5 separate regions of the Homo sapiens genome follow, and all the other regions are linked to region 4. The links come from fine-mapping of genetic effects on gene expression. A gene starts in region 4. Each other region holds a variant in brackets. All regions are shown on one strand. Distances are between the middles of the regions. Region 1 overlaps LINS1 (lines homolog 1). Region 2 holds the start of LINS1 (lines homolog 1). Region 3 has its middle 33 kb from the start of CERS3. Region 4 holds the start of CERS3 (ceramide synthase 3). Region 5 has its middle 25 kb from the start of CERS3.

Evidence for each region. PIP is the estimated chance that this variant, and not a neighbour inherited with it, causes the effect.
Region 1: its variant is fine-mapped to the expression of CERS3 in whole blood (TOPMed, PIP above 0.99).
Region 2: its variant is fine-mapped to the expression of CERS3 in activated naive CD4 T cells (Schmiedel 2018, PIP 0.95).
Region 3: its variant is fine-mapped to the expression of CERS3 in cerebellum (GTEx, PIP 0.97).
Region 5: its variant is fine-mapped to the expression of CERS3 in activated CD8 T cells (Schmiedel 2018, PIP 0.95). The same link has a PIP of 0.9 or more in Th1 cells.

The regions. Positions count from the first base shown.
Region 1 is chr15:100,585,326-100,590,431 of GRCh38, forward strand. All of the region lies in intron 1 of LINS1 (lines homolog 1), which reads right to left. Among named protein-coding and RNA genes, the nearest start is that of LINS1, 14 kb to the right of the region's middle. RefSeq lists a silencer at 3,425-3,625. The variant T/C (reference allele first, on the strand shown) is at 2,323.
Region 2 is chr15:100,598,851-100,603,956 of GRCh38, forward strand. It overlaps LINS1 (lines homolog 1), which reads right to left and starts at 3,334. Exons shown (of 7, transcript NM_001040616.3): 1 at 3,271-3,334. ASB7 (ankyrin repeat and SOCS box containing 7) reads left to right here and starts at 3,739. Exons shown (of 6, transcript NM_198243.3): 1 at 3,739-4,196; 2 at 4,365-4,463. RefSeq lists an enhancer at 3,252-3,591 and silencers at 3,762-4,021, 4,472-4,521. The variant A/G (reference allele first, on the strand shown) is at 2,433.
Region 3 is chr15:100,559,841-100,564,926 of GRCh38, forward strand. It overlaps the pseudogene RNU6-181P. Among named protein-coding and RNA genes, the nearest start is that of CERS3, 33 kb to the left of the region's middle. The variant C/G (reference allele first, on the strand shown) is at 2,529.
Region 4 is chr15:100,525,942-100,531,047 of GRCh38, forward strand. It overlaps CERS3 (ceramide synthase 3), which reads right to left and starts at 3,009. Exons shown (of 12, transcript NM_001378789.1): 1 at 2,872-3,009.
Region 5 is chr15:100,551,036-100,556,141 of GRCh38, forward strand. It overlaps the pseudogene PRKXP1 and the pseudogene RNU6-322P. Among named protein-coding and RNA genes, the nearest start is that of CERS3, 25 kb to the left of the region's middle. The variant G/GCA (reference allele first, on the strand shown) is at 2,122.

The DNA of each region.
Region 1 (5,106 bases), 59 kb after region 4:
TGCAATGCTGTTTGGCCCCAATATTGTTTGGAATCTGGAGTTTGCTGTTGAATGGGAAAGTGGGATGGTGTTGCATGCATCCAGGCTTTTGTGCTGCTGTTCTGAGCAGGGGGCCTGGTTAACATGTGATGCTCTCGTTTGGAACTGTTTGGACCCAGTGTCCTTTGGAGTCTGGGGAGGTTTGGCCTTTAAAAATCAAACTGCCGTGGAAAATGTTTTACTCGAAATTTTGGTTCACAGCCTTCACTGGATTATCTATTGCGGCAAACAAAGTAAAACTGGCGAGCTTGTATTGCTATCTCATGGCTAGGGTTCCAAGCTATTGGATCTTCGTTCGTGTATGTGTACATGTACATGTCTAGACGTGTTTATTTGTATGTACACTTATTGTTATATGTTGTGTTTACTGAACTGACTTATAAGAGTGCTCATACATTAACTAAGTCTAAGCAATTTTTAAGTTCACATGACTTAAGTATAACTTTACTAAATAAGCTGGCTTTAAACTTATTGGTAAAATAAAAACAGAAGTGCCTTCAGAACCGTCAGCATACATTTTTTGTCTGGTTTTATGTTTGTCTTTGCTAGATATTTTGGGATGTCAGTGTTTGGCATAGAAGATTATTAAACTATAAACCCAGCCAAAACAAAATGATCTTGGTTTGCATGCCTTGTTTTTTTGACAAATCAGAGAAATCTGTGAAAGGAAAATATCTTGGGCCCCCAAAATCACTAAGCTCAAGGGAAAATTCAAGCTGGGAACTGCTTAGGGCAAATCTGTGTCCCATTTTATTCAAAGTCATCCTTCTGCTCATTAAGATAAATGCATATCTGACTGCCTCCTTTAGAAAGGCTAATCAGAAACTCAAGAGAATGCAACTGTTTGTCTCTCACCTACCTGTGACCTGGAAGCCCCCTCCCAGCTTAAGAGTTGTCCCACCTTTCTGGACTGAACCAATGTTCATTTTACATATCTTGATTGATGTCTCATGCCTCCCTTGTTAAAACTGAAAGAACAGAGCACAGTGAATGGGATAAGTGTTTTAAGTAAACTTTTTGTGTAAATTAAATGCTTTGAGCTATTTTTGATGCTCATTTAATATCTGGGTCATTTCCAATAAAGAAAGGATTGTGATATGGGGAAGTATGTTTCTAAATTGTGGAACTGTTCTTATTTATAAATGCCCACATCTTATGGTTCAGGATTTCTTGCTTTTTGGGGTTTCACACAAGTTTTAGGTTACTAAGAATTCTAGTTAACACATAATTCTGTAAACAAAATGTGCCAAAAAGTTTATATTACTAGTGAGAAAAATAATAATTTTGTCTAATTCAGAAGTTATCTAAAAGTTAGTTCAGATACAGATTTGAAAAGGTTATTTATGAAATACCATAGTAAGAAACCAGTAAGTAGCGGATAAACATGTGGAAAAAATTTATATAATAAAATATTATTTAAAACCTGACAGAGAATTGGAGACATTTGGCTAATTAATGTTTTCAGTTAAAGCTCTTAGTCTTGATTAAAATAAAGTAAGTATTGTAAAGAAATGTGGCCGGGTGCGGTGGCTCATGCCTGTAATCCCAGCAACTTGGGAGCCAAGGCGGGCAGATCACGAGGTCAGGAGATCGAGACCATCCTGGCCAAAATGGTAAAACCCTGTCTCTACTAAAAATACAAAAATTAGCTGGGCATGGTGGCCTGCGCCTGTACTCCCAGCCACTTGGGAGGCTGAGGCAGCAGAATCGCTTGAGCCCAGGAGGCAGAGGTTGCAGTGAGCCAAGATCACACCACTGTACTCCAGCCTGGCAATAGAGGGAGACTCTGTCTTAAAAAAAAAAAAAAAAAAAAAAAAACATTAGCAGTTTGGCAATTCTTTAATATAGTTAAGCCTGAAGCCGGATTTAGTGTGGAGCCAAATTTCACATACATGCTTGCATTGCTTCACACTATGTCTACTGTTTTGCATGGATAGTGCCGGCACTGAAGTACTTATATAGGTCATGTGCCTAGAGTGAATTTCTTGATTGCACAGGATGTATAATGATATTGGTGAACTTAAGGAAACTGAATTGTGTAATAGTAATAAAATATTCATTATGTGGGTTTTTTGGGGCCCTGGGTAACACTGTAGCCTCCAGGATAGACTCAGTGGGAAAATTTAGGGTTGGTTTTCTGTTTGTTTGTGCTTCCAGTTTTCATTCATTTGCTGTTTATTCTCCTCTGGGCTTTGCTCGTGTATGCATATATATAAAACCATGATTTTTTTAAGTTCCTAAGTGGAAGGCTTTTATTTGGTTCTGTGGATATTCTGTTTCCTA[T/C]GTGTTTTTAGAAAGTCATCATTTGTCCCATTTATCCAGAATTCCTAGGCTACCTTTGTTGGGCCTGCAGGAATTAATGGAGCACACCAGCTTTTTAATCTTAAACTAACTTCTTTGGAGTTTAGGCTTCCTGATACTTTAAGTGTCTTGATTATACTTTTGTAAATAGAATTTGAGTAGTAATTCTCACTCTGCCTAATTTCTCCAAAATTTGAAGCTATTTGTGAATATTCTTAATTCATGGGAATGTGTTTGTTTGCATTACAGTTGACTAGGGTCACCAGGGCTGGTCAGGGAGAAAGAGCCCAGAAATCTGGCATGCCGGCAAAAGGGCAAGAATTTCTTAGTAGTCAGACACTGGCCTCTCTCAATTTGTGCCAAATGGTTAAATGAAAGGTAAATGTCACTGTTTATCTCCTCTATAAAGTTTTAATTAATACAAAAGGAATTCTGAGGCTGGTCTTAAGCTGTAGTGAATCTGGTGTGCTCTGTGTGTCTTCCTGTATTTTTCTGTCATAAAGAGGGGTACCCTAGGATAAAAAGCGTGTGTAGGGCCCCAAAAGCCCACTATTCAAGATGGCCCAGCCAATTGGTCAGTCATGTCCTTGGGAGCTTGACCTTGTAACTATGTGGCTGTACTTTCTCTTTTCACAATGGTGGCCTGGGTTTAGGGTTCAATTCCTGGCTCAGGGAATGAATCCTTTATCTTCTGTGTATTTATATGTGTTGTGTGTATAATATAAAAGAGTTTTAATTAACTGGTTAATAATAAGAGCTTAAATCAAATATTTTGTCAGAAAAGTAAAAAGTGTAATGCCTTTCATTTAGTTCATGTGACTTAAGTAATCTGAGAAATAAAGACAGTTTTTAAAGATTATTGGTAAAATAAAAATATCTTCACAAATGTAAACATTTGGTCTAAATTATGCAGGTCAGATATTATGTTGACTAAATGCTTTAAGGTCACAAACTGCTTCTTTGACTTTTAAAAATTGCTTAATTTATTCTGGAGCATTAGATTCTAGATAAGTCTTGGGGACATGTGAAATTAGCCATGCCCTCTAGCTATGCAAACAAGGTTTTATATAAGAAAGGATCTTGTATGATAAATTCTTGTCCTAAAGTAAAATAACTGCTTGTTTAAAAGAGGGGTGTTTAGGACAAGTCAGAAAGTCCAAGCATGTGATAGATGGTCTGTGTAAGTCATGAAATAATTTATGAAAAAGAATTTATGCAAGAAATGTTGTACAATTTAAAGGTGATTAGGCCTCCTAAATGCTTTGTAAATGCCACTGTGACTCTTAACTGTACAATTTGCCTGTTTTACAGCTAGGTAGGGCCCGGGACACATGGAGTTAGATGCTAGAAAAAGTCAGACTTTATCTGCATTTCTTTCTGGGTTCTAGGCTTCTCCACATCTAGTACTTAATTAAAACCCCAAACTTATCAAGGTTTTCACCAAAAGTAAAAGTTGCTAAGAGTTAACATTGTAACATGTAACTGAGACTACTGAAGAAACAGTTTTACATGCAAGGTGTGTAAGAAAAGTGAAAGGTGTTGTTGGTAAAAGACTATAAGAAAGCATGGGAATGTACATTTTTGCCTAATTTAAAGGGTTAAACCACAGAAATAACCAAATTTCCTTGTATAAAGCTGCTAACCCAAGTAGAACAAGAATTAAGTACCAAGAAAATACTTTTTGTCAGATTTTCATGTTAAATCAGCTGATACTGAAATTGTTTTAGATACATATTTTGAATGAACTCCACGATCTAAGTCAATTTACCTATGATAACCCATCAGTTACCAGTGCTATGCACCTAATGTGGAGAAACAACTGGTATTCAAGAGGATATAAGTCTAATATTAATTAAGCATGGACTCATGGAGGACCAGGTTGGTCACCTTGTCCTTTCTGAGTCCTTAAAGCTTTTATTATTGAAAGTTCTGCATTCCATGACTCATCATAGAAAAGATAAAATGATCCAAATTGAATATATTGGTGTGGTGGCTTATAAATTACTGAAATACTTTATAGCCAATGTTTGGGCCCATATTCCTGGGAAAATAATCAAAGCTTCAGGTACATTTGGTCACCTGATGGGCCATTTAAGGGATTTTATTCAATTATTATTTTCAATGCATGTTTTCTGGTTATATAAAAGCTCTCCCATGCAAGAGGGCTCATGTTATAAAACTAAGTCATTACGCCACAGTGTATTTTCACTAGGTACAGAAAGCTTTTTATGGTTTGCTGAGGACAATCAACCCCTTCACAAATCTAGAGCCTAAAGATTAGATCTTCTGAGAACATTGGAGAAAGATTGTCCTTGCCATCCACATTGCAGCAAAACTTTGGAACCCTGAACTTTGGGTTCATAATCTCACAACTGAGGAGGGTCCCTCCACACTCTTGGAACTGTACACCCATAGGAACCCTTAAGGTAAAGCTAACCAAGGAAGTCGCTCCCCAGAAGAACATGGCATCCTTGATGTGAACAGCTTTTCCCAAGATCACAGATCAAGACTTCTACTATTATGAGAGTCTTATCTTTGAATATTTTTTGTTTATGCGTCCAAGAACAATAGAAATGAAAAGGGGGTCTGTTGTATGCACTTATGGGGTACACTTTTATTTGTGAAGGATTTTGCAGCCAGCCTCGTATATGAATAACCTTATACTTTGACAGATAAAAGATGAAGGTCCAATGCAGGTGAGAAATTTTAATGGTACACACATTGCCTCATCATCAGTCAGAAACAGAACATTGGTTCACTCCTCTT
Region 2 (5,106 bases), 73 kb after region 4:
TGCCAACTAGAGCATAACCTGCTCATTCTCTCCACCACCAAGTGCTTTATGGGCCAGGACACAGCCTCCTGGGCAGTGGTCCTTGACCTTGGAATCTGACCTTGACACTGACATCACTGGAACATTAGGAAAAACCCATGAGCCTTGGACTCCCTAGAGACCAGCTAAATCAGAATTGCTGCAGTGGTGCTGGGGCATTTTTCCAATGACAAAGTCTCTTTCTACTCAAGAAATAAACTCAATTCTGATTGAGTCAGGGTTTCATGAATCAAGCTTCATGAATACTTATCCCAAATTATTTCACTTATATGTTGTAAGATGTTCCCATTTTTGTGAGTTTTATATTATTAACTAAGTTAATGGGAAATGAAGTGTATCTGTTAAAACCTAATCAATATTAACTTGTTATAAATATTCCGCAATCTAAACTGCTTTTACATCATTGAAAAGTTATAAAAATTAGCAAATCTGATAGCACCAATTCAATAAAGCAATTTAAAATTACCTAGTAGCACATTCTGTGAAACTTTGACAATATGATGTTACTTGGCTATGATATAATCATGTACTTCAATCATTTGAAAATGGTTGTTTAACTCAAAGGCAGGATTTTTAATGAAAAACAAATGGCCAGAAATACAAAGAACTAGGAATTAGGAGACAACTCTGTTTCTAGGCTCTTCACCAACAAGTTCTTAGGCCCCCATCTCTCTACTTAACTATCATTTAGCAAATACACCATATGAATTGCATGGGTGCCGAGTCTGCTATAAGAATGAATATGTTCTCCACAACAATTTACATATTTATTCATTTCTCTCTCCCTCTTTTTCCTTCTTTTTGGGAGTTCAAAACTTCTTGACTCTATAATTAGTAAATGTTATAAAACTGAACTTGTACATTATATTTGAACTGTTAAAAAGCAAAATTTGAGGCTGGGTGCAGTGGCTCACACCTGTAATCCCAGCACTCTGGGAGGCCGAGGCGGGTGGATCACCTGAGGTCAGAGGTTCGAGACCAGCCTGGCCAACGTGGTAAAACCCCATCTCCACTAAAAATACAAAAATTAGCTGGGTGTGGTGGAGTGTGTCTGTAGTCCCAGGTACTCAGGAGGCTGGGACAGGAGAACTGCTTGAACCTGGGAGGCGGAGGTTGCAGTGAGCCAAGCTCGCACCACTGTACTCCAGCCTGGGCGACAGAGGGAGACTCCATCTCAAAAACAAAAACAAACAAAATTTGAACAAATTTAAAGATGTAAATGGCTTTTATTAGCAATTTATGAATCTGGCAGCATCTCAACTAAAAATTTAGAAACGGTGTTCTGATTAGCTGAGCAGAGGTGGGCTGAAAACGGTTGAAGAAGCAAAAAGAGAATAAAAGACAGATTGGTCATTTCAAAGTTAAACTTTCCTCACAGAGACCAAATGGAGGAGAGACTTCTTTATCATGCTGGCTCAGGTAAATCAGGCCTCCTTGACTCCTTGCTGTGTATCTTCTGGATTTTTTGACAACTGGCCCATTTCTAAGTTGTTTGATTATGTGACACCTAGCACCAGCAACTCCATTCTGATTTGGCCTGGTCTGTTGGGCCTAGTGCAGGGGTTTAATCTAAAACAATGGCTTCCTATACATTTCATTTAACAATACTAATAAAATACCGCTTTTATTTTATTTGTTTACATTGGAGTCCTGCTGTTAAGCAAAAAAAAAAAAAAAAAAAACAGGGAGAAATCATGGTAGAATCGAAAGACCGAAAGCTACTAAAAATTGATAGCATTTAATAGTCCTGAATAAGTTGTTTCTAATTATAATTCAGCTACTAATTTCAAGAAGAAATGGAAATTTAGAAAGTTGAAATTATGAAATATGATTGCTGGGAAGTATAATGGGACAAAAATTAAAAAGCTGAATCTATCTTCACTGCCACTACTGCACTTCTACTCTGGACAACTGCAACCGATCCCTTCCAAAGTGGTTGTATCCAGGCCCACCCTACACCCACTTCCTTCTGAAAAACCAATCCACTTTCCTTAGGATACAGTCCAAACTCCTAAACAAGGCTTACCAAGGCCCTTCAAGATCTGACTCTCGGCGTCTTCTCATCTCTATGCCCCACTCCCCAGTCTCATTACCAGTCATTTTCCTACCACTCTGCTTCAGCTACCCTAGCCTTCTTTCTGGCAGTTCCTGTAAACAGCAAAGCATATTCTAGCATCAGAGGCTTTGCATTTCTAATTCTCTCTGCTGGCAAAATTCTCTCCCTAGATCTTGGCATGGCTGGCTCTTTGTCATTCAGATCCCTGCTCAAATGTCACTTCCTCAGAGACCTTTCCTATCTGTCTTAGTCCGTTTCCTGTTGCTTATAAAATAATTCCTAAAACTCGGTAATTTATAAAGAAAAGTAATTTATTGTCTAGTTTTGGAGGCTGGGA[A/G]GTCTAAGACTGACGGACCACGAGACAGCACCGCAAAGTATCACGTGGCCAGGGGGCTGAGCAGGCTCACGAGTTGTCAAGTCTCTCCTTAAAAAGCCACCAGTTCTACCTCCGTGATAACCCATTAATCCATGAATAGATCAATCCACTCGTGAAGACAGAACCCTCACGGTCCAACCACCTCTTAAAGACTCTACCTCTCAGTACTGCCACATTGGGGATTAAATTTCAACATGAGTTTTGAAGGGGACAGATATTCACACCATAGCACTACCTATCTAATACAGCCCATCACGTCCTGGTCAAAATCGATTCCACCATTCTGCTTGATTTTCCTCATATAACCCATCCCTATCTGATAATTTTGTGTTTGTTTCCCCGAAATCACTATCTTGTTCACTGTTGTCTCCCCAGGGACTAGAACAGTGGCCAGTAAACACTTGCTAATGAATAAAGTGCTTAACAAACGTGTCTTGATCAGTCTATCTCGCGTTTTCCCCACGACCCCTCTCCATTCATTCACAGGAACCCGCCAACGTTGCTATCCTTTCAGGAAGGTCCTTGGATCGTCATCGCTATCCCAAAGAGAGTCCGTTCTCCCACTTCAGGCGAGGCATTGCCAGCCTGGAAGCTAACGGGGTCTCAAGGACCGACAGCCGCGCCAAGACCGGGCACTTGCGTCTGACAAGCGCTGAACAGGGGCGGAGAAACAAGGCACCCCTCTACTCGCTTCCTGGAGCCTGCCGCCCTCCCAACCTTAAGCCCTGAACCAGGCTCTCATTTGGCCGCACTCGTGCCTCCCCTGCTGCCAGCACGGCGGCCGGTCCCGGTTACCTGCCTGGGATCTGGCTCAGGCGAACTCTCTTCACACCGCCATTTGAGGGAACACAAATGCCCGCTCTGGGCCACCGTAGTTCACAGAAAGTACAAGCTGGCACCTCCTCCCGCATGCGCAGAGACCGCCTTCGGCGAATAGTGTCTCTTAGCAACGGCTTTGAGTCCCTCCGCCAGGGGCGGAGCCTCGGAAGCCACCACGGGGAAGCTGTAAGGGGAAGTGAGTGAGACCAATCGGAGACGAATCTCTGCCCCGTTCGGCACGCCTCCCTTAACTGTCGCGAATGCAAAGGCAACTTTACGGCAGGCAGAGGGTGGGGGCTGCCGGGGGTAAGGAGGAGAGAAGGAAGCAACCAACCAACCAAGTCGTCCCTACTCCCTCCACCCCCACCCATCCCGGACCTGGTTTACGGCTCCAGGCTCAGGCTCCACTGCGGGCGCTGATTGGTTGTTGAAGGCTTGGTCCCATCCCAGTGACCCCAAAGTGCTGAAGGGAGGGGGCGGGGGTGGCCCAGTGCAAAGTGCATCCCGAAAGCCCCCTGTCCGGAGACCCCACGGCTGGCACTTCGGGCCCCGTATGACCTGGGACCTCGCCGTCCCGAGACCTCCTGGGTCCCTCCGTAGCTGGAAGCCTCCGGCCCGGAGCGCGGCAGCCCCCTGCTCCGAGCCCTGGACCGGGACTGCCCCCCCACCCGAGCCAGGACTTCCTCCCTGCCTCCCTGCACCTCTGCCCCAAGGCTGCCCGGCGGCCGGGATCGCCACCTCCTGCCTTCTCGGCTGTTCGGATGTTCGCCGGGCTGGGGCCGTGAGGCACCGAGGAGGATCAGGAACACCAGGGTCCGGCCCTGCCTGGGGTATTTCTTCAATGGAGAAGTTGGTGAGTGTAGAGGAGGCTGAAAGGAGGAAGAGAAGCAGCAGCTGAGGAGACAGGTAAAGTCCTTTACTTCCCCCGAGGGGAAGAGTGCTGGCTGGGAGGGTAGGAGGGAGGAAAATCTCTGCTTTTTCTTGCCTGCCCTTGCCACTCTCCAGCCCCTTTCCTGAGCTCCCCCCTCCCCACCTCTGAGACACTACACCACTCACTGGTTTCTGTTTTTCTAGGTTTGAGCTGGCTGAAGAAGACGCGAAAGCAGGAAGAGGTCTGCCCACCTATCAGAGAAGCAGAAGGCACAGTGCCTCTGACCAGCATCGTCTGTAAAGGTAATGAGCCAGCCCTCCCCTCCCCCGTTGTTTATTCCTGGCCCCTACCTCATTAAGCAGTGGTTTATTTTCAGGGTGGTTGCCTGGGAATGCAACCTTTCCTACCCCCCCCACCCCCACCCCCAGTTTCCCAGGAAAAACAAAAACATTACCCGTGCCTGATACTTAACATTTTATAACTTCTCTACCCAGGACAGTATTTTCCCACTTTCTTTCTGTACAGTGTGTTTCTGTGTTTTTCATTATCTTTTGGTACACTGTGCCATTTACTCTGCTCTGAGGCTTTGAGACCTTTTTGTAGCTACCCTCCCTTCCTTACTCTCATAGGAATTCCTCAATTCCTTGTTAATTGCTTGTTAATTCTGAATGACTTTCCTTTTTAATTAAACCACAATTTACTGTTTTCCCCCTTACTCTTTCCTATCACCTTTCTTCTACCTGCATCAGAAAAATCTTTTGAGTTATCTAACTGACAACGATTTGGTAGAGAAAGGTAAATTATTGGCCTGAGATTTATGAGTTTCAGAAAATAGTTTGATTTTATTTCCTACTAGAAAGCCAACCTGTGTACCTTAAGAGTGTGAATGGTATGAAGACAACATTATTACCCTGAAGCACTTAGGCATAATTAACTCTTTGGGCT
Region 3 (5,086 bases), 34 kb after region 4:
CCCTTCCATGTAATCGTCAAATTGTTTATTGTACATATTAAAAATGACACACAATCAAGAGGGCATATGCTATATTCAAGCAAAGAATGCTATGTGAGCCACGCGTGGTGGCTCACGCCTGTAATGCCAGCACTTTGGGAGGCCAAGGGGGGTGGATCAATTGAGGTCAGGGGTTTGAGACCAGCCTGGCCAACACAGTGAAACCCCATTTCTACTAAAAATACAAAAAAAAAAAATACCCGGACATGGTGGTGCACGCTTGTAATCCTAGCTACTTGGGAGGCTGAGGCAGGAGAATTACTTGAACCCAGGAGGTGGAGATTGCAGTGAGCCAAGATTGCACCACTGCACTCCAGTCTGGGCAACAGAATGAGATGCCATCTCAAAAAAAAAAAAAATGCTATGCGATACAAAAATGATGTACTTGTCAATAGTCCAGTGAGTCAGGGGAACCCTTTCTCTTTATTGTGGAGAAAAATAGCACAATCAGAAAAAAAATTAAAAGATAATTTTCAGGAAAACTGACAGTTAAAAATCCAATTCTGTTTTACACAAGTAGTCTTTTGTGTTTTGCAGAAAAACAAATATCTGTTGATTTGGAGATGGACAATATATGGTCCTTAGCAAATAAAAGAAGTTTAGCTGTGGGGAAACCTGCACTTCCTCATAATTTATTGAATAGCTTAAAAAGATGTCATCAGCAATTATAAGTGTGCTTCTGGGGTGCTTACTTCACAGGCCTCAAAGGGAGAAATGAGTCTGACAGGAGGCTTGAGGCACTTAAAAAACACACAGACATTCTGATTGCCACCCCTAGAAAGTGCCTTTTTTTTTTTTTAAAGTTACAAAATATGAAATGCTTCATAAATTTACATGTCATCCTTGAGCAGGGGCCATGCTAATCTTCTCTGTATCATTCCAATTTTAGTATATGTGCTGCCAATATAAGCATAGAAAGTGCTTTTCAGATGGCCAGGCACAGTGGCTCATGCCTGTAATCCCAGCACTTTGGGAGGCCTAGGTGGGCAGATCACCTGAGGTCAGGAGTTAGAGACCAGCCTGACCAACACTAAGAAACCCTGTCTCTACTAAAAATACAAAATTAGCTGGGTGTGGTGGTGCATGCCTGTAATACCAGCTGCTTGGTAGGCAGAGGCAGGAGAATTGCTTGAACCCAGGAGGTGGAGGTTGTGGTGAGCCAGGATAGTGCCATTGCACATTTTTCAGGTAAAACCATGCTTCAACTCTACTGCCTTCAATGATTGGGTAGGCTCTACCAAACAGCAAACACCTGAGCCATTCTCACTGGAAAGAAAATCACAGGCAGATCACATTCCATATCTCAATGCTTCTAAATATCAGAGAACTGCTGGGACAGTGGTGTGTGCCTGTAATCTCAGCTACTTGGGAGGCTGAGGCAGGAGGATCCTTTGAGCCCAGGAGTTTGAGACTAGTCTGGGCAACATAGTGAGATTCCATTGCAAAAAAACAGTATGTGAAGTAAATTTAAAATAAATATCAGAGAAGTGTACTTTGAAAACAAAGCAAAAATCCTGAAAAGGAAAAACACAAGCAATCCAGGGTGTACACAAGCATGTATTGTACCCAATGCAGTAAGTAACTGGACTACAGTTCATTCCAACTACTTGGTAAGGTTCATTGTGAACTGCAAACTTAGAAAGGGATCACTGTTTGCTTTTCCTTTATCTTAAAAAAATATATAGGCCAGCTTTGCAATTAAGAGGGGATACATGGTGTTTACTGTAAAGGCTTTGATGTGAGTTCAGTTCTACCCTCTTTAAAATAACCAGAAAAACTCAGAAATGGTTTGCTAGTCTGATCTATGATCCTACTGTTAGAAAAGGCATTTTGTCAACCATAATTTTTGAATGTGCATTTTGATAAAGCAAGACAATTTTTATACTGTCATAAGTGACAATCAAGACCAATTAAAGTTTAATATTTAGGTCAAGTGTCCAAACATCTGGGCAGTCCATGTCTGCCAAGTGCAGCCCTAGTGGGTTGTGTTAAGGAAGAGGTAGGAGGTACAGCAGCAAGTCCAGCTGGTGCCCAGGGAGATATTTTGGATTTCTGGAACATTGCCTTTGGTGATTGTGTTAAAACTATTTCTGACTTGAATGGTATTGTTTTCAGCCTGTCATTTCAAAGGTGCAACCCAAAATGCCAGTATTATTTGTGTGCAGAGAATACAAATAAATTGAAAACCACCATCCTTGGTTTCTACCTCTTCCCCTCCTGTGCACACTTGAGTCCACCTAAAATTTCTCTCTTAAACATCATCAGCTACTTCCTAAGGGTCAAACCATCTGGTGGTTTCTCGGATCTCATCCCACTGTTGCTCTCAGAGATACTAAACCCCACATAAATTTTCCTTCTCAAAGCTCTATAAAACCTTTCTTAGTTTCCTCATAGAATTTTCTGTTCTCCTGCCTCAAATTTCCCTCACTTTCCTTATTCTATCCAGTACTCCCCCGACCCACCCTCACCTTTTCTCTCTCCACTCTCAG[C/G]GCAATCACACTTTCTTCTACGATTTTCATAATACTTGTACACAAATGACTCATATTTGGCTCTGTCCTTCTAATTTCCAACAGAGCATTTCTAACTCTCTGCTGGATGCCACGCTGTGCTGATAACAGTGTCAGAAGTCACTCAGGTGAGAACTGAACTTTTCTTCCTCCTAAGGCTTCCTACTTTCTTATTTCAGTAAACAGAGCAGCATCTCAGCATGCCAGTGAAACGATGGCTCTTTATTTCAGGTTGATCCTGTTCCTCCTTTTTAAATTCTTTTTTCCAGTTATACTTGCACACATTATTTAAAGACTAAGTCTTTCAGTTCTAAAAACTTTCCTTGAATTTCTTTTATACTTTCTCTTTTCCAGTCCTTTTTTCTCTTTCTGATACTTCTATTATTCAATTATTGGACCTTGGTGACCAGTTCTCACATTATATCATCTCTCTCTCTCCTATTTTCTAATTTCTTTGTCCTATTGCTGTAAAATCTAGATTTCCTCAACTTATTTTTACTACATTTCTACTTTTTCATTTTTGCTATCACATTATTAATTTATAAGAGGTATTTTTTTCCCCACTGAATATTTTTTTCTTTTTTGAGACAGGGTCTTGCTCTGCTCTGTCACCCAGGCTGGAGTGCAGTGGTGCGATTATACGATTGTAGTTCACTGTAACCTCAAACTCCTGGGTTCAAACCATCCTTCTGCCAAGCCTCTCAAGTAGCTGGGACTACTATACTCAACTATTTAGGTTTTTTTTTTGGAGAGACAGAGTCTCATGATGTCGCCCAGGCTGGTCTTAAACTCCTGGGCTCAAGTGATTCTCTTGCCTTGGCCTCCCAAAGTGCTGGAATTACAGGTGTAAGCCACCATGCCCAGCCCCTCGCTGAATATTTTTTATGTAGTATCCTTTATAATTTCTTTGAGGGTATTGATAAATTAACTTCCTCTTTGTTTAATCTGTTTCGTGTTTGTTTTGATCTCTGCCTTTTGGGTTAGAGGCTTTCCCCTAATTCCTGATGATCCTTGGCTATTCACTCACATTATATGTAAGAGTGAGCCACTTAAATGCCAGTTAGCTCTATGTACATGGTGATATTTGCCACTATGGGCTTCATAGTAGGGTGATTTGGCTGGGTAATTCATTTGGGGAACCCCAGTATCAGTGTCTTTAGATCTTTTTTCTTGGGTTTGTTAAATTCCCCAGAAAAGTCTCTTCTAGCCTCCTACTTAGAGTTAGAAGTGTTTTGGCAATAGGGTTGGGGAGAAGGCCAGGGAGGATGGTGGTTATATTTAGTATGTAAATGTTTAATTAATCCTGTTTTCAGTATGTTATTCCTATCTCCAGCTATGTCTGGTGTTCCCCAGTCCAAAGACCTGTTGTTTCACACTCTCCCGGAATTAACCTCTAATCTGCTAGGTGGTGGAGGGAGCAATGGCTAACTACATGGAATGGGGCAGAGGATCTAGAAGTAATTGTTTCCTGAATTGCTTTTCCACCCACCACCCCATGGTACAGCATGGTACTCAAGACTACAAGCTCCTGAGCCTTCAGAAGAATCCAGCTCATAAGTCAGGTTTTTCAGTTTTCCCCATTCCAGATAGGAATGTAATGTTCCTGGGTCGACTAAGTTAGTTTGAACCCGCCACTGCAAAATTGTAACTGGGACAGTGGAAGAGATCGGACTTAACCAACTCCATCTTGCTTCTTACCTCCAAGCTGTCCTTGTTCATCCCTGGGCATAGGCTGAACTAATTTTGAGAGGAATTTATAGTTTAAAACAAAGATAAGAGGCAAATCCCCTTCTTGCCTGGGGACGAGACTGCCTTTGTAGGATTAACAAATTAGTCACAAGATTAGAAATTATGGTTTAGGAGTCATGCAGCTGGAGGCTGCAAGATTCTGACCCTCCCTAAACTGCTCCTAAGTCAGGAACTATTTTGTAGACCCTGCACTTGATGGATCAGCTGGCACCACCCAGATCCATAAACTGGCTCATCTGATCTTGGTTCTTGTGGCCCCCACCCAGGAACTGACTCAGCACAAGAAGACAGCTTTAATTCCCTGATCTCTTCTCTTTCCCAACCAATCAGCACTCTTGACTCACATCCCCTTCCCACCAAATTATCCTTAAAAACTCTGATCCCTGAATGCTCGGAAAGACCGATTTGAGTTATAATAAAACTCCAGTCTCCCCTACAGCCGGCTCTGTGTGAATTACTCTTTCTTTATTGAAATTCCTGTCTTGATAAATCGGCTTCGTTTAGGGAGTGGGAAAGATGAACCCACTGGGCGGTTACGAGTTTTCAACCTACCTACCTTTGAGCTTCCAAAATTGTTTTCTCCTTTTCCATTTTGTCCGCATGTGTCTTGTTGCTTGTGATTTGGCCTCTTTCTTGTTGTTAGTGGGTGTCTGAGGGCAGAAAAGCTGATGTGAGCATTCAGCCAGGCCTGGATCCCATTCCCATTGCCCTTGCCTTCAGTGGGATTTCTGCAATAAACTCTTCCACTCTATTGTGGCAATAAACTCTAGCCACTATATTGCCACTAAAGT
Region 4 (5,106 bases):
AACCATAAACTCGGGCTGTATAAGATCAATTAGATCGTTGTATTGTGTGTTGAGGTGTTTCCAGGAGAAAGAAGAATCTACCTGCATCTGATTCCAGAGAGAGCTTCTCTGTGTTCCCCTCTGCTATCTCTCTGCTATGATCTGCAGTTTCTCTGGATTCAAACATAGAGATAGATTGCCAAAACACCATTCTTGATGCCAGCTGGCCTACTTGATGAACTTGACTGCAGGCTTTTTGCCAAAACATAAGTCAATCGTTTTTGTCCCAAATCCATCCTTATAAAGGTGTACACCTGCAGGTCAATCTTTGCATCGCATCCCATAAATTCGTGTTGGGGAGGGCTTGGAAAGTCCAAGCTTCTTGTGTGGATGGCTTGGGGCCCAAGATAAATGAACAGTTGCCACGATACACTCCGTGCTCTGTGAGCGGAGGGAGCTCCCTTGGAGCCAGCCCAGCACCCTCCTCCCATGAGCACTCTGCCAGCTCCTGGCAGTGCTTCTGCTGTGGTGTGGAGGCCAGGGAAAACCTACATAAACTGTGTGTGTGTGTGTGTGTGTGTGTGTGTGTGTGTAAAAACAACTTTCCTGGCCTACCACAACAAACTGACTTTTGAAAAAGAAGTATCTGATGTTCTTGCTTTTTGCTTGATTTTACTATGCTTTGGGGGACTTTTGGCATAGGACATTCATTACTTTAAGAGGCTGTTTGAAAGCTGGATCAGCTCCACAAAGAAAGATAATCACAAAGTGATTTCCCAAGAAAGTACACTAGGATATAAGGAACAAGTACCAGTGGAAAGGCAACTCCCTGAGGGCAGGGACTTGTCTGCTTTGTTCACTGGTGATACCCCCAATCCTAGAACAGGATCCAACATGTCAAGAGCATGAAGAAATCACTGCAAAATGGGGAAATGAATACTGTTTACCAAGGGCCTACCCTCTGTCAGGTCCTATGGAAGGCATTTGACATACCCTGCCTTTTTATGTCTTATAATAAACAACCTCGTTTGATGGATGTTATAATAATTATTTTATAAATAAGGAAACTGAGATTTGAAGAATTGCACTGAGGCCAGGTGTGGTGGGTTATGCCTGGAATCCTAGTACATTGGGAGGCTGAGGTGGGCAGATCACTTGAGGCCAGGAGATCGAGACTAGACTGACCAACATGGCGAAACCCCCATCTCTACTAAAACTACAAAAAAATTAGCTAGGTGTGGTGTCACATGCCTATACTCCCAGCTACTTGGGAGGCTGAGGCACGAGAATCGCTTGAACCCAGGAGGCAGAGGTTTCAGAGAGCCAAGATCATGCCACTGCACTGCAGCCTCAGTGACAGAGCAAGACTCCATCTCAAAAAAATAAAAAAGGAATTTCAGTGACTTGCCAGGGTCATAGTTAGTAAGCAGGATGCAGGAATTTGAATTTTGATCTGTCTTTCTAGTCAATGTTCTGTCCACCACACCAAGCCTTCCTCCAACAGCAGAAGCAGGTGATAGATTGATTGATTGATTTTGGCCTTTTGTTATAAGACACCAAATTCGAGTATTTGAATATTATCATAGCTTCAGGAATCCCTCCACACAAGGACCCTGTAGGGGGTTAATGGAATAGAATGGGAATATAGAATGAGCTGAAATCATATATCTTAGTGTGCAGAAATGCAATAAAGCTGTGGCTTTCTCACATCCCTACTGTACCACTGTAAATCTCACTAAGCCTCAATTCCTCGTCTGAAAGTGGCGTATCATGAGCCCTAAAGGGGAAAATGCACGTACACACAGCAAGGACTTAGTAAATGTAGATTATTATTAGCCCAGAATGATCTTCAAACTTATGTAAATCAATTTGATTGATATTTTAGAAAAAGGCAGAAATATTGTGAATGAGAGGGCCACATAATTATTACCTTTTTGAACATATACATATTTTCTCTTTAAAGAACTTTTTATCCAGAAATTCTACTGAAGAAATTATAAATGGAAACCCCTTTTAAGAAAAACAAAAGGCTTGTAGGGGGGAAGGCAATGAAAATGTGAAGTTTAAAGTCAAACACTCACTTAAGGTAGAGAAGGCACTTGAACATTGTGGGTTAATGAATAAATTAAAATTCATTATCTGGTCAGCCCTAAAGCTTTATTTCCCTTGTTTTGTGTAAAGGTTTCAAAAAAATAAAAATGCTTAACAGAACATTCTTGCTAAACATTTGCTTGGATCAGAAAAAGTAGTTTGATTTTGTTTCACTTTTCTGCATGAGACTGGCAGCCTTAGAACCGAACAGCTAATTTCTCCTGGCATGACATTGAGCACTACATCTCTCAAGACAGAAGCAGCTTAGGAAGGCCTGCCACTGTGGGGTGAGCAAGTCCCACCTTGTTCTCAGCTTAAGGCACTCTGGGATGGTCTGAAATGGCCTTTGCCACCTGGCAAAGATCTGTGCTGACCCCTTTCATTCCACCTGGATTCAGGGCTTTCCTGATAAACCAAGCTATGCTGAGCATTCAGCCGTGTGTGATTTCACTGCCCAGACCTTTCTTCCTAACCCTCAATGAATCAGTTTAAACTCGCCCGAGAGCAATGCAGGTCAGGAGTGGAAGTTTGGACTCGAAATTTACCCTCTACTACTAAACACTTCCAAGCAAAACTCTACAAAGCAAAGGGCCCCAAGTCTGTCTTTTCTGTATTTCTCCCAAACATCAGACCAAAAATGAACATTTCTTCATTTGTCCGCCTCTCCCCCAATCTCCATCTCCTCTCCCTCTCTGTTACGCACCCAGGCACACATACACACACAAGCTCACACGCGGAATCACGGCCACCTTGGTTTTGAAAGTCCTCAAATACTAACCACATCCATGGGATGGCGCCTACCTTTCTGAAATGTCAGTCCACAAAAGGTGCCCCTTGCTTGTGAAGTGTAGTCAGAGAGCAGCTTCCAACGTTCCAACCAGCTTCGTTCTCCTCAGAGAGCAGCACAACTCATCTCTGTGTAAGACCTGAAATTCCTTCAGAGACCCACCCTCCAAAGTTGCGAGTCAAGATTTCTGACTGAGGGCAGTCAGTGACGTGAGGCGAAGCTACTGGATGGCACCCTCAGGTTCTTCCTGATGGGATGTTGCTTCCTGTTTCACCACCTTGAGAAAAGAAAGCTGGAATTCAGTGAGACATTGAGTTACAAATGCATCAGTTGCCTCATCGTTGTTGCCTTTTGGTGCACACAGTCATCTGTCAACTGCTGAACAGGATGATCTTGCTGTTTGTATTAAAAGGAAAGGGCTTATGCGCAGAGAGAACCCCAAAACACCAGTCACAACCCTGTACTGTCCTAGGAGCTGGTTCGACAAGTATAGTACTCTCCAGAAAACAGGCAGGGCTTCTTACTAACTAAATCACCACCATGCCACAAAACTCATCCACTAAGGAGCATTGGTCCACAGGAATGTGATTTCTCTGCCCGCTTCCTAGGAATTGAGAAAACGATCAGTTTTTTGAAGCATATAACTGCCAAAAAATACAATAGTCTGGCAATCTTTTCTTCTTAGAACAGTCAGATATAATTCGCATTTTTATTTGTTTGTCTCTAAGAACAATCATCATAGACAAAGACAGACAAGCTCATTAGTATCAGGAAATAAACATTGTTGCTTGTCTCTGTGTGCTTGAACCACTACAATTTCAAAGGCAAGTGTGGATGCATTTTATAGTGTTTATTTGAGATATTGTACCTTTGAAGCCATTTTCACTTTCTCTTGCCTGAAGATGAAACAACTCTGGGCTTGGATTATTTAAAGGTGCTCTGACAAGTAGAGAGCTTCAACAAGTTGATTCCTGTATCTCTCACAAACCAAACATCAGCAGTACCGCCCACACTGAGAGCCTGATTCTCATTAGCTGTCTTCAACTGCTGAAAGACATTTTTCTTTTTTCATCAGCTAATAGATGACCGCAAATTAAAAATGGACTAGATGCAGATAAAGGGAAACACCAGTTTCAAATTCATTAAAGCTCCAAAGTTTCTCAGATTTCACTAATGAATTTAGTTCAAAGAGAGAGGATTGATAAACGCCCTTCCTTTCACTGGGTACTTCTCACTCAGGGCTTCCCGGTCTGCCTTTCTCTTCGAAGACGTTCTGTTTTTCAGTAATGGGCTCATGCATTTTTAAAACCATCTGGCAGAAGGGATGAATTTAAAGCAGACTTGGCCACTAACCGAGGTAGGCTCAGTTCAGGTCTGCCTCACCTTCTGCCAGGAGACCACTGCAGAATTGGTTTCCTGACATGAGGCTTCCATCTTCATCCAATTGTCACCTAACTCACATTCCCATTCTCATTTCTTTTTCTTCTGCTGATTAAACTCTACCAGCCACCTTCTACCTATAGGATCAAGACCAGACTCCTTGGCACAATGGCCTGCTCGCAACCTGCTGCTCCAGGACTTCCTTTTGCCCTTTCCCACTAGATTCCAGACACAACAGTGGGCAGCTTCTGGGCCCTTGCCATGAGCTGCTCTCTCGCCTCTGTGCCTAATGAAAGTCTGAATCCTGCTCAAGCTTCCCTAGCCTCGGCCCTCTCTGTTCTGTGGGTATACCTTTATTGCAACACCTACTACTCTATCACAACTTAACTGATTTTTGTATCTGCTTCCCCACTACTTTGGGAATCCTCACTGGACAAGCCTTAGATCTCTTTCTACCCCTGGAGCTCAGCTGTTCAATACTGGTCAAACAATTAGTACCCAAAATAGTGATCATCCAACACTCATTTTCACTCCGGGGATATCTCGGGAAAAGAATGTCCTGAACCCTATTTTGGACTCTCTTACTCAGAATTAAACAAGCCAAAAGAATATTGGGGAACCAGGCTGGGAACAGTGGCTCACACCTGTAATCCCAGCACTTTGGGAGGCCGAGGTGGGAGGATCCCTTGAGGTCAGGAGTTTGAGACCAGCCTGGCCAACATGGTGAAACCCTATCTCTATTAAAAATACAAAAAATGAGCTGGGCATGGTGGTGGGCGCCTGTAATCCCAGCTACTCGGGAGGCTGCGGCAGGAGAATTCCTTGAACCCAGGAGACAGAGGTTACAATGAGCCAAGATCACTCCACTG
Region 5 (5,106 bases), 25 kb after region 4:
AATAGACCTCAGTCTCCCATAGCGCTCCCAGGCTTATTAGGAAGAGGAAATTCCCGCCTAATAAATTTTGGTCAGACCGGTTGATCTCAAAAACCCTGTCTCCTGATAAGATGTTATCAATGACAATGGTGCCCGAAACTTCATTAGCAATTTTAATTTCGCCTCGGTCCTGTGGTCCTGTGATCTCACCCTGCCTCCACTTGCCTTGTGATATTCTATTACCTTCTGAAGTACTTGATGTCTGTGACCCACACCTATTCGCACACTCCCTCCCCTTTTGAAAATCCCTAATAAAAACTTGCTGGTTTTTGTGGCTTGTGGGGCATCACGGAACCTACCGACATGTGATGTCTCCCCCGGACGCTCAGCTTTAAAATTTCTCTCTTTTGTACTCTGTCCCTTTATTTCTCAAGCTGGCCGATGCTTAAGGAAAACAGAAAAGAACCTACGTGAATATCGGGGCAGGTTCCCCAGTATCTGTTCACAATTAAGGCAAGGCATTTCAGGCTTTTCCTGATGCTAATTTTCATCTCAGTATGAAATCCTGGATTACAAAACAGGCAACCTAAAAATAGGCATTTTTTAGTACATGGACTTATGGGTCTATGTACTTTTTAAAGTGTGCTCAAGAATAGTGTTTCATTTATGGTTTTATTAATAATTTTTAAAGCAGAATTTTCAACAATATTATTACTATGATTTATTTTTATAGTCAGCAAACACGAGACTTCATGCTCTTCCTTCTAGCTGCACATCTCGGTGCACAGTGTAACCTTTTTTAAAAAAAAATATGGAATGCGGCATGAATCTGGATCTTCCTTGCACAGGGGGCCATGCTAATCTCCTCTGTGTCATTCTAATTTTAGTATACCTGCCGCTGAAGTCAGCACCAGTTTCACCTTTTCACATTCACGGTAAAAATTATGGGAAACTGCATGTGAAATGTTTAGAAAATGATGGCCCTCAACTGTTAATCCCAACAGGATGGTGACTGAGACACACAGGCTGAAAATACAGCTGTCTAAAACATTTCCACATTTCATCATCTGAACATCATTTTCCACTAAGTTATTAATTGTAAAGACTTTATTCTACTGAACCTACTAATTATTCTCACCTGCTGAGTTGACCACCACGTGAAGAAAAGGTCATTAATGAAAAAGGGTGGCTATGTTCTGTTTCTGCAGTTTCACTGTGTTTTAACATTTTTTTCCTTTTATAGAGATGGGGTCTTGCTATGCTGCCCAGGCTGGTCTCAAACTCCTAGGCTCAAGCAATCCTCCTGCCTTGGCTTCCCCAAATCCTAGGATTACAGGAGTGAGCCACTGCACCCAGCTTCATGGTCTTTTAAAGCCTTAAGGTGGATGTGTCTTCATTCCACCTTTCATTCCACCTTCAAAAGCACAAAGCCATTGCCTTTTTTTTTTTTTTAATTTAGACAGGGTCTCACTCTGTCACCCAGGCTGGAGTGCAGTGGTGTGATCTCGGATCACTGCGGCCTGGACCTCCCCGGGCTCAAGTGATCCTCTCATTTCAGCCTCCCGAGTAGCTGAGACTATAGGCAAGCGCCACCATGCCCGGCTAATTTTTTTGTATTTTGTAGAGAGATGACATCTCACCATGTTTCCCAGACTGGTCTCCAACTCCTGGGCTCAAGCAATCCACCCACCTCAGCCTCCTGAAGTGCTGGGACTACAGGAACAAGCCACTGCGCCCAGCTTAGATGAAATTTTTGAATGTGACACAGGTTTTTTAAATACAGTATATTCCTCCAACAACTTCAATGTCATTGTAGATTCTTGGAATAAATTCACTCCCATATCTTCTTCTCTTTGTTTCTTCTTTTAAAGTCTCAAGTTACCAGGTAGGAAGCACTAAAGATACTGAAGATGGACCTCCCCATGATGTTTTCTTCACCCAAACTAAAAAATGCATGTGAGATGATTTTTTTAAATCCATGCAACAGACCCTTCAGATGTTGTCCCCAAGAGAAGAGATTTTTGAAAAAACAAATTGAAAAATAAAAATTATAGGCTCTGTGAAGTATGAACATTTACATCATTGCACAATTTCTGTGGATCTGCCATAATGACTTCTATATATACACACAGGCGCGCGCAT[G/GCA]CACACACACACACACACACACACAATTTGTGGTTATAATTGAACAAGTCCAGTTCAAACTTATAAACTTAAGTCTATGAGAAAAACCAAGACATCACAGTAGGAACACAACACTAAAGGATAAGATAAAATCTACAAGCAAACAATTTTCAAAACCTTCCTACAGTGTGGAATTCCAGTTGCTTAAATAATGCCAGTTACATTAATTTCAACTGTGCTCTGATCTGTTTCTATACATACAGGCACAAAGACAGAAAAGTGGAAATGTCCTTATCACGTGAAGAAGACATTGCTACTGGTCTGCTCAGGAGCAGCTCTTTGTTGCAGGCAGATTCCAGCCTTCCTGCTTCTTCCAGATGTGAGCTCCTGTCCTCAGAAATTCTTGAAGATTTCTAAACCCTTCTGCGGCACGGTCGCGGCTGTGTCCCAGTCATTCTCGGGGTAAGTTCCGAAGTTGGAGGTGTCGCCTTCGCGGGCTATCTTGGGCACGATGGGAGGCTTCAGTTTTCTCTGAGGAACAGCTTCCCAGTCCACAGAGCGGAACCACCGATGGCGTTTCACATCATTCGCCCCGTTCTTCATATTTCCTAACCACCTTGTTCTGTCAACCACGAGCAGTTTCTTAATGAGATCTTTCACATGGAAATCCAAATGTCTGGGGAAATCTATCTTGTCTGCAAGAATTTTCTGATAAATGCCAAACATGTTGTCACACACACACACACACACACACACACACACACACACACACACAAATGGAGGAAATCCCGAGAGCATCTCGAATATCAGGATGCTGAGGGCCCACCAGTCCACAGCCCTTCCGTGACCCTCGCTCTGAATGACTTCGGGGGCCAGGTACTCGGGTATTCCGCAGAGGGTCCAAGTCCTGTCTACCAGCTTCTTGGCGAACCCAAAGTCCGTGAGCTTGATGTGTCCGTCCCTATCCAGCAGGATGTTCTCCGGCTTCAAGTCCCTGTAGATGATCTCCTTAGAGTGCAGGATGGCACAGATGATCTCTGCAGAGTAGAAGAGCCCCCGGTTGCGCAGGTAGCTGAAGAGCTCACAGCCCGGAACATACTCCATGAGCCTGCAGAGGAAGCGCTAGTCATGCCCCGTCCAGCACAGCCTGATGAGAAACGGGTGGATGATTCCTTCAGGACGCAGATGAGGGACGGGTGGATGATTCCTTCCGGACGCAGATGAGGGACGGGCGGATGACTTCCTTCCGGACGCAGATGAGGGACGGGTGGATGACTTCCTTCCGGACGCAGATGAGGGACGGGTGGATGACTTCCTTCCGGACGCAGATGAGGGACGGGCGGATGACTTCCTTCCGGACGCAGATGAGGGACGGGCGGATGACTTCCTTCGGGACGCAGATGAGGGACGGGCGGATGACTTCCTTCGGGACGCAGATGAGGGACGGGCGGATGATTCCTTCCGGACGCAGATGAGGAACGGGCGGATGATTCCTTCCAGACGCAGATGAGGGACGGGCGGATGACTTCCTTCGGGACGCCGATGAGGAACGGGTGGATGATTCCTTCAGGACGCAGATGAGGGACGGGTGGATGATTCCTTCAGGACGCAGATGAGGGACGGGCGGATGACTTCCTTCCAGACGCAGATGAGGGACGGGTGGATGATTCCTTCAGGACGCAGATGAGGGACGGGTGGATGATTCCTTCCAGACGCAGATGAGGGACGGGTGGATGACTTCCTTCAGGACGCAGATGAGGAACGGGTGGATGATTCCTTCAGGACGCAGATGAGGGACGGGCGGATGACTTCCTTCCAGACGCAGATGAGGAACGGGCGGATGACTTCCTTCAGGACGCAGATGAGGGACGGGCGGATGACTTCCTTCCAGACGCAGATGAGGGATGGGTGGATGATTCCTTCAGGACGCAGATGAGGGACGGGTGGATGATTCCTTCCGGACGCAGATGAGGAACGGGCGGATGACCTCCTTCCGGACGCAGATGAGGGACGGGTGGATGATTCCTTCAGGACGCAGATGAGGGACGGGTGGATGATTCCTTCCAGACGCAGATGAGGGACGGGCAGATGACTTCCTTCCGGACGCAGATGAGGGACGGGTGGATGATTCCTTCCAGACGCAGATGAGGAACGGGCGGATGACCTCCTTCCGGACGCAGATGAGGGACGGGCGGATGATTCCTTCAGGACGCAGATGAGGGACGGGCGGATGACTTCCTTCCAGACGCAGATGAGGGACGGGCGGATGACTTCCTTCGGGACGCCGATGAGGAACGGGTGGATGATTCCTTCAGGACGCAGATGAGGGACGGGCGGATGACCTCCTTCCGGACGCAGATGAGGGACGGGCGGATGACTTCCTTCCAGACGCAGATGAGGGACGGGCGGATGACTTCCTTCCAGACGCAGATGAGGGACGGGTGGATGATTCCTTCAGGACGCAGATGAGGGACGGGTGGATGACTTCCTTCCAGACGCAGATGAGGGACGGGTGGATGATTCCTTCCAGACGCAGATGAGGGACGGGCGGATGACTTCCTTCAGGACGCAGATGAGGGACGGGCGGATGACTTCCTTCCGGACGCAGATGAGGGACGGGCGGATGACTTCCTTCCAGACGCAGATGAGGGACGGGCGGATGACTTCCTTCGGGACGCCGATGAGGAACGGGTGGATGATTCCTTCAGGATGCCGATGAGGGACGGGCGGATGACTTCCTTCCAGACGCAGATGAGGGACGGGCGGATGACTTCCTTCGGGACGCCGATGAGGAACGGGTGGATGATTCCTTCAGGACGCAGATGAGGGACGGGCGGATGACTTCCTTCCAGACGCAGATGAGGGAGGGGTGGATGATTCCTTCAGGACGCAGATGAGGGACGGGCGGATGACTTCGTTCCAGACGCAGATGAGGGACGGGCGGATGATTCCTTCCGGACGCAGATGAGGGACGGGCGGATGACTTCCTTCCAGACGCAGATGAGG